Regions from separate parts of the Homo sapiens genome. Here region 2 is reported to be linked to region 1. The links are microRNA targets in miRTarBase. Many come from high-throughput screens and were not tested one by one. Region 1 holds a microRNA gene; the other region holds the end of a gene's coding sequence.

Region 1 (3,421 bases):
AATACAGGTTGAGTATCCCTAATCCAAAAAGCTCCAAACCCCTAAACTTTTGAGTGCTGACATGACACAAGTTGAAAATTCCACACCTGACCTCATGTGATGGGTCAGTCAAAACTTTGTTTCATGCACAAATTTACTGAAAATACCGTATAAAATTACATTCAGGCTGTAACATGTATGAAATAAATTGTTTAGACTTCAGTCCCGTCCCCAAGATCTCATTCTGTATATGTAAATATTCCAGAATCCCAAGCATTTCTGAAAAGGGATAATCAACCTGTACTGACAGGGTTAGGTTCCTGTAAGCCTGTGACATTTCCAGCAATTAATACATGACCTTGTTTTATGTGTTTGTTAAGATACCTTAATATACATTAATACTGAATTCATGTAACTCATGTCACCCATGCCTGAAAAAAAGCCTCCCTAACATCCATTTTCTCCAAAAGGCTCATCTCTTCCTTCTTGTGCTAAGGAACACCAGGTAACACTTCTGCGCTATGCTTGGGGGCCATTTTAAACAGCAAAATCCACCCACAAAAGGCACAAAAATGTCAAGAACATAGCACTCAACAGACCATGAAAGGGATACTCGTCTGGGAAGTGTGTTATCAGGTGACGCAAACTTTTTGTTGCTCTGCACACATCCATGAAAGCAGCATGCACACTGATTTGGGGGTTACAAATAAATTTTAGTGAGTAGGCAAATTTGTAAATACGGAATCTGCAAATGAGAATCAACTGTTTCCTTAATTCCTGCAAGAATCCAAATGCCTACTCCCCAAATCTGTTGGCTCTGGCCACTTAAAGTTTGCTCTATCTGAAAAAGCAGACATTTCAGGAACAGATGAATATGACTTATCTTCGAATCTCACAACAAATACTGACTTCCAATCAATCAGCTACCTAACGTATAAAGCTATGAACCCAACCTGGCACTAGATTTTGGTGTGTGAACTAGTGTGTGAACTTTATAGATTTGACTTCAAGTGTCTCAAAATAGCCGGCTCTTTTAAAACCTCAAAATTTGAACCATTTTGTATTACAATTTTGAAAAAATATGGTGTTTCTCTGCCTTAACACAATGAAGAAAATCTTTCAAAAAAAAAAATTGTAATGAAGCATCAGCCCCTGAGAGGGTATGTCTGTTGTGAGGCAAAATACAAAATGATCAGGATCCCCACTGGATGCACTGTTCTATGCTAAAGGGTAGGAGGGTGGAGTTTGTATTATCTTGAGTTTCAAAACAAGAAGCCAAAGCGAAAAGCATTCTAGGTACAGAAGCATCACTAGGCTTCATCAGCATTGAGGGCTGCCACTGTCACAAGCTAGGGTTTTGTTTAGATTTATTTAATCCCGAAGGTTAATAGAATTGTTTGTTTAGCATGGAATGAGATAACCACACGTTTAACTTAGAAAGCTAACTCTAGCAGTAGTCCACAGAGAATGATCGGTTAGAAATTAAAACCTAAAAGTGTAAACTGCCTGGGTTATCAGTTTTATGCAGATACCCTATACTCCAGGCTAGATCTTCTAAATCCATCCTCCTAAAAGAACCCCACATCTTCACCTTTAACAAGTACTTTGGGTATTACACTAAAATTAAGCCACAATCATGAACTACCAAATTAAAGACGTTACAAGAATAAGGTTTAAAACTAATCATAACTTTTAACACTTTAATATTAAAATCATACCAAAGCCTATCTTATCTACATCCTCTTCAAGAGTAGCTATCATTGTTTTATATCATGTAAGGGTTTAAGCTAATAATCTCATAGCCTAGAAACCTCAATATAATCATCAACTGGCAGGCCAGGCATGGTGGCTTATGCAGGAATAAGCCTTATGCTTATGCTTGAGCCCAGGAATTCGAGACCAGCCTGGACAAAATAGGGAGACCCAACCTCTACCCGCAAAAAAAAAAACCCCATAAACTGGCTTATCTTCAAAAGTGGATGGGTGTCAGTCTTGTACATGAAATATTAAGATCATGTAACAAATACATGTAACAAATTGTTTCAATAATCCGTATGGAAACCTTAACTCATAAAATGCACTACAGGAATTGTCTTGTGCCTTTTACATAAAACCAATAGACCCCCTGAACTTAACAGTACATTTTTCATAAAAGATTCTTATGTCGGCTCAGCACCATTAAGATATTACCTATTTATGCATGGCAATTATAAAGACTTTGAAAAAAAGCAAATCCGTGCACTGTTTAAGGAATTTTTATTAAAGCAAGAATTTTATAATCCAAATTACGTTTCCTTGCTCAGTTATCAATTCTGTTACTTAAAACAGAACTGACATTCTGAGCTATTCCACAGTAAAGAATTACAAAATTAAAGAAAGGAATGCTTTAAATTTTTGTACTTTGCTGAAAATTCTTTTTCCCAGGGTCTATAAAACATTAATTTGTTTTTATATTTTACTATTTTTTTGTGTTTTTTTGTTTTTAAATCAATAAGTAATCTAGGACTAGCATTATGTTTGCTAGACCTGGCATTTGCTCGGTACATAAGGTTCAAAGTTTCCTTTCCTTTTTTTATTTATTTTATATTTTGCAATGTTTTTTTTCCATAATATTTAAGTTTTTCGATGTTTAGATATTTTTCTTCGGTGAAGCACAAGTTTCTTTTCATGGTCCCTGATCAATCTGTAAATGTTAAAAAAACAAATTAAGACCAGGACTATCACTTGTCAGTAGCAAATTAAAGCCCTTAGCCAAATGCAATGTGGTTGTTTTTATCCATAGTTTTACTGGAACACAGCCATACCTGTTCATTTGTATACATACTATCTATGGTTGTCTTGACATGGTAACACTGGAACAAGATCATTTCAGAGATAACACAGTCCTCAAAGCCCAAAATATTTCCTATCTGGCCCTTTACAAAAAACATTTGCCAATCCCTGGTCCTGATCCTGGCTGCACTACTCAATTTCTTGGGAGTGATGAAAGACAGTAGTAGAGACCCAAGGGCACCACCCAAAAAGGAAAGGTAAAACTATGAAAGCCAACCTGTGACAGGTCATTTTATATATATATTACTATACAAAATCTGGCAGGGCGCAGTGGCTCACGCCTGTAATTTCAAGACTTTGGGAGGCCGAGGTGGGCGGATCACTTGAGGTCAGAAGTTCCAGACCAGCCTGGCCAACATGGCAAAACCCCAAGTCTAGTAAAAATACAAAAATTAGCTGGGCACGGTGGCAGGCATGGGCCTGTTAATCCCAGCTGCTCGGGAGGCCGAGGCAGGAGAATTGCTTGAACCTGGGAGGTGGAGGTTGCAGTGAGCCGAGATCGCGTCAATGCACTCCAGGTTGGGCGACAGAACGAAACTCCATCTCAAAAAAAAAAAAAAAAAAAAACACCACCTGAAAGTCCTGGGATTTTAAAAATCCAACAGTTAAC
Region 2 (3,421 bases), not on the chromosome of region 1:
TGATTTTCTCAGCATAATGCAGCTAGATTATTAGCTGCGATAGAGTTTTGAGAGGAAGGAATAAAGTACTCATCTCAGACGGTGAGAAAGATCATCACTAAGGAAACGCAGGGTTGGAAGCAGTGCTGAGTGTCCAGTTGAGTTTCATGAGCAAACATTTGCTGTGGGACCAGTTTTCATGGTGGTTTGTCATTTTGTCCAGCTGCCTGGAGCTGCTTGGTTGAAGGCACAGAATAATCAGATTAATTGTTTAACTTGTATGAATTTCTTTATTTTAAAATAGGAATAATATCTGCCTTGGGAGCAAGTTGTAAGAGTTAACTGAAAGCTTAAGGAAAAAACTTTCGCTCGCTATTTAAGTAGGGCTTTACAAGTTACAATTCTATCACAGTTTTAAGATTATAAACCAGTGTTTTTTTGGTATAAAATTATATACTAGTATTCTTATGGATAGAATTTAATTAGCTCAATTTTGAGATTTGGAAATTCACTAGTTATTGACCTTTGGGGAAAAATTGCTGATTTGGATCTTAATATATTGTAGGCTGATATTTATGCCCTGATAGTTTCCCAGAAAAACATGAGAATATGGCCAGAAAGGAATATACTATGAATGACCTTTTTCCTTGAATTTCAGAGGCAAGTGCAAAAACCTGTGATGGTGTACAATGTGCCTTTGAAGAACTTGTTGAAAAGATCATTCAGACCCCTGGACTGTGGGAAAGTGAGAACCAGAATAAAGGAGTCAAACTGTCACACAGGGAAGAAGGCCAAGGAGGAGGAGCCTGTGGTGGTTATTGCTCTGTGTTATAAACTCTGGGAAATTCCATCTCTTGCATATTTGATCAGATAGTGACATCTTTCTGTATATAAACTCTTTAACTGCTATTTTAGGGACCTTGCAGTTTGCACATAATTGTTTTATATCATAGCAGTAAATATTTGCAAGAAATCCCACTCATCGACCCCGGGTAAAATGTTATGGTAAGCATGCACAGTTTGCAGTCTACAGTTTTTTTATGTAGCACAAAATAGGTGTACCTTTATAAGTACATTCAATTTTATGATTTACATTTATCATGTAATTTTTAAAAAAATCCATCTATCTAGGATATGTTGATACAAAGTCTGCTTTTGCTATTCTTTTTGCTTAAATACTCCTATCATTTTCTGAATTACTTGGTATTTAGAACTCCTAGCACCACGGGGAAGAATAGAGGTATCATCAAACGTGGCAAATTTTCTTTCAGGAATAATAAAGAGCATGATTCCACAGCTTTTCTGGGATGTTTGAGATTCTTTTTTAGTACTAAGCAAAATTCTCATCACAGAATGTAGCCCAGGCCAATTTATAACTAAATCTCTATTTGTTCGGATGATGCTTCTAAAACAGCATTGATAGGTTAAAGAAGCTTGGTATTTTTAATTTACTTCAATGATTAGCTCAGTTGCTTAACTGGAGTTTTAATCCTGTGATATGTACATTGGATTCATGACTGTGCAGCATTTTTAGTTATGTGGTGTTTGGCAGAATGACAATAAGGTTTTCCCCCATTTTGGTTTCAGGAGGACATGAATAGTGTGTTTATTGTAACTCCTCATACACTTTTAAAACCAACATCTTTTTTCATAAATGTTGGTAGTGTTTGTCCAGGTACCTTAACTGTAGCTTGTGTAATGTTGATGAATATCTGTATCTTACGGCTTCCATAATGGCTAGTTGATATTCAAAAACCTATTTCTGTGTTTTGAGGGGTGGGGAAAAAAAACACTAAGTGATAATTTGAAAAAGGCATATTGCTTCCAGATTCTGATGTGTGAGGGAAAATACTGTCACAATGAAAATCTTGACAATTTACTTAACAAGTAACCAGTAGTTCATCAAAACCAACTTGTACAGACTAATAAATCTTTTTCACAGTATTCAGTTTTCTCACCTCTTGCTATTGTATATTGTAGATTTTTTTCATTCATGTGTTATTTAATTTACACTGATCTCTGCTATTTTAACCCCCCAAATAAGTTATTTGTCCTTTAAGGTTGGTTACTATAATACCCCTCAGTAAGATTCCAGTATTAATTTCTGGGCAGTTTGTTCTCTGTATACAATTGCAAATGATAAGCATTTTTGTGAGTGACCACCTTTGCAATATGTTTGTTAATTTACTTCATGTTGGGTTCTTTCTGAAATGTACATCTTTACATATAAAAACCTCACATTCTACTTGATTTACACTTCCTAGTCTACATTACATGTGGTTGAAGGTTTTATACATTCTATATGCTTTTACTAAATATACAAGATTTACTACTAGAAATTTGGAGAAAGAACACTAACACATGTACTTGTGATTTGTTCATGTTATATTAAAACTTGAGATTTGTGTATTTATGTAGAGTCTGTATTGACAAGACTGTTGTTTTTTGCTCCTTGAGCTATATAATAATCTGTGTATTGGATTGTTGTCTTGATTTGGTCTAAATTTGAATATATATGAGTTACTTGAATATAACAAAAATGAATTTTGTTTGATAGATTTATATTGTAACCTTTTTCTAGTTCTTGAATAAATATAGCCTGCTTTCCCTAGATGCATTTGTGTAGGAAGTATATACATTTCCCTATTACTCTCATCAGCTGAAGAATATGTACTATTGTGTTACTCAAATTATGTGGCTTTCATTTTGTTGTTTTGTTGCAAGCTTAGTGTTTTGTAGTGGAGGTTTTGTAAATGAAACAGTTGTAATATCTAAGGTCAGGCACCTAGTAACAGGGTTTTGTTAATTCTTTTCAGAATCATTGAAGCAGTCTTAAAGGGTCTTTTGCAGATGGTACAAATTAGAACAATTAGAATATAGTATTTTGAGTTCTAGTAGTACTGAGATTGACCCAAACAAATAAAAAACTATTCAATTTCTGAGTAATAGTTAATATTTATTGAAAGCTTCCTTGGTGCCAGATGCCTTTCTAAGTGCTGAATTATCTCATTAAACCTCACAGCAACCTTAAGAGATTAGTACTCCTATTATGCCCATTTTAAAGGTGAGGACAACACAATGTAGGTATGTTAGGTAACCCCCAAAGATCACATAGCTACTCAGTCACTGAGCTGGATTCCAGTCATGGCATTTTTACTTCTGAGCCCATACTCTTCACCATCGCTCATTTTACAATGGGTAGTTAGTTACCAGCTTTTTGTAACACAACCAAGTTAAGGCAGTTCCACTATTTCTTTATCACTCTTTTGTTATATGTAATAGAAGTATTTCACACTTTTGGGTTATAGAGTAAATCCCATGATGTAAACCTACCTCATAAGTCATGTGACATAAAAGTTAAGGTAGTGGAGTAGGTGGTCTTATTTCTTTCACCTGCTCAGAGTGGACTGAAAATCCTGACTTAGAAAAGGTACAAAGTTAG

The links. Region 1 holds the annotated microRNA hsa-miR-7705 (AAUAGCUCAGAAUGUCAGUUCUG, at 2,305-2,327, opposite strand). A microRNA usually pairs through its seed, bases 2 to 8, with sites in the 3' UTR of a target mRNA and lowers its output. Matches are read on the target gene's strand: a 7mer-m8 pairs with bases 2 to 8, a 7mer-A1 pairs with bases 2 to 7 and ends in A, and an 8mer does both.
Region 2: the mRNA of RAB18 is a reported target of hsa-miR-7705. Seed matches in the 3' UTR shown: 8mer at 2,434-2,441.

Annotation. Positions count from the first base shown.
Region 1 is chr8:100,700,698-100,704,118 of GRCh38, forward strand. MIR7705 (microRNA 7705) reads right to left here and starts at 2,327; the gene lies at 2,271-2,327. PABPC1 (poly(A) binding protein cytoplasmic 1) reads right to left here. Exons shown (of 15, transcript NM_002568.4): 15 at 2,219-2,662.
Region 2 is chr10:27,537,239-27,540,659 of GRCh38, forward strand. It overlaps RAB18 (RAB18, member RAS oncogene family), which reads left to right. Exons shown (of 7, transcript NM_021252.5): 7 at 638-3,421. The coding sequence ends at 813. Among named protein-coding and RNA genes, the nearest start is that of LINC02680, 27 kb to the right of the region's middle.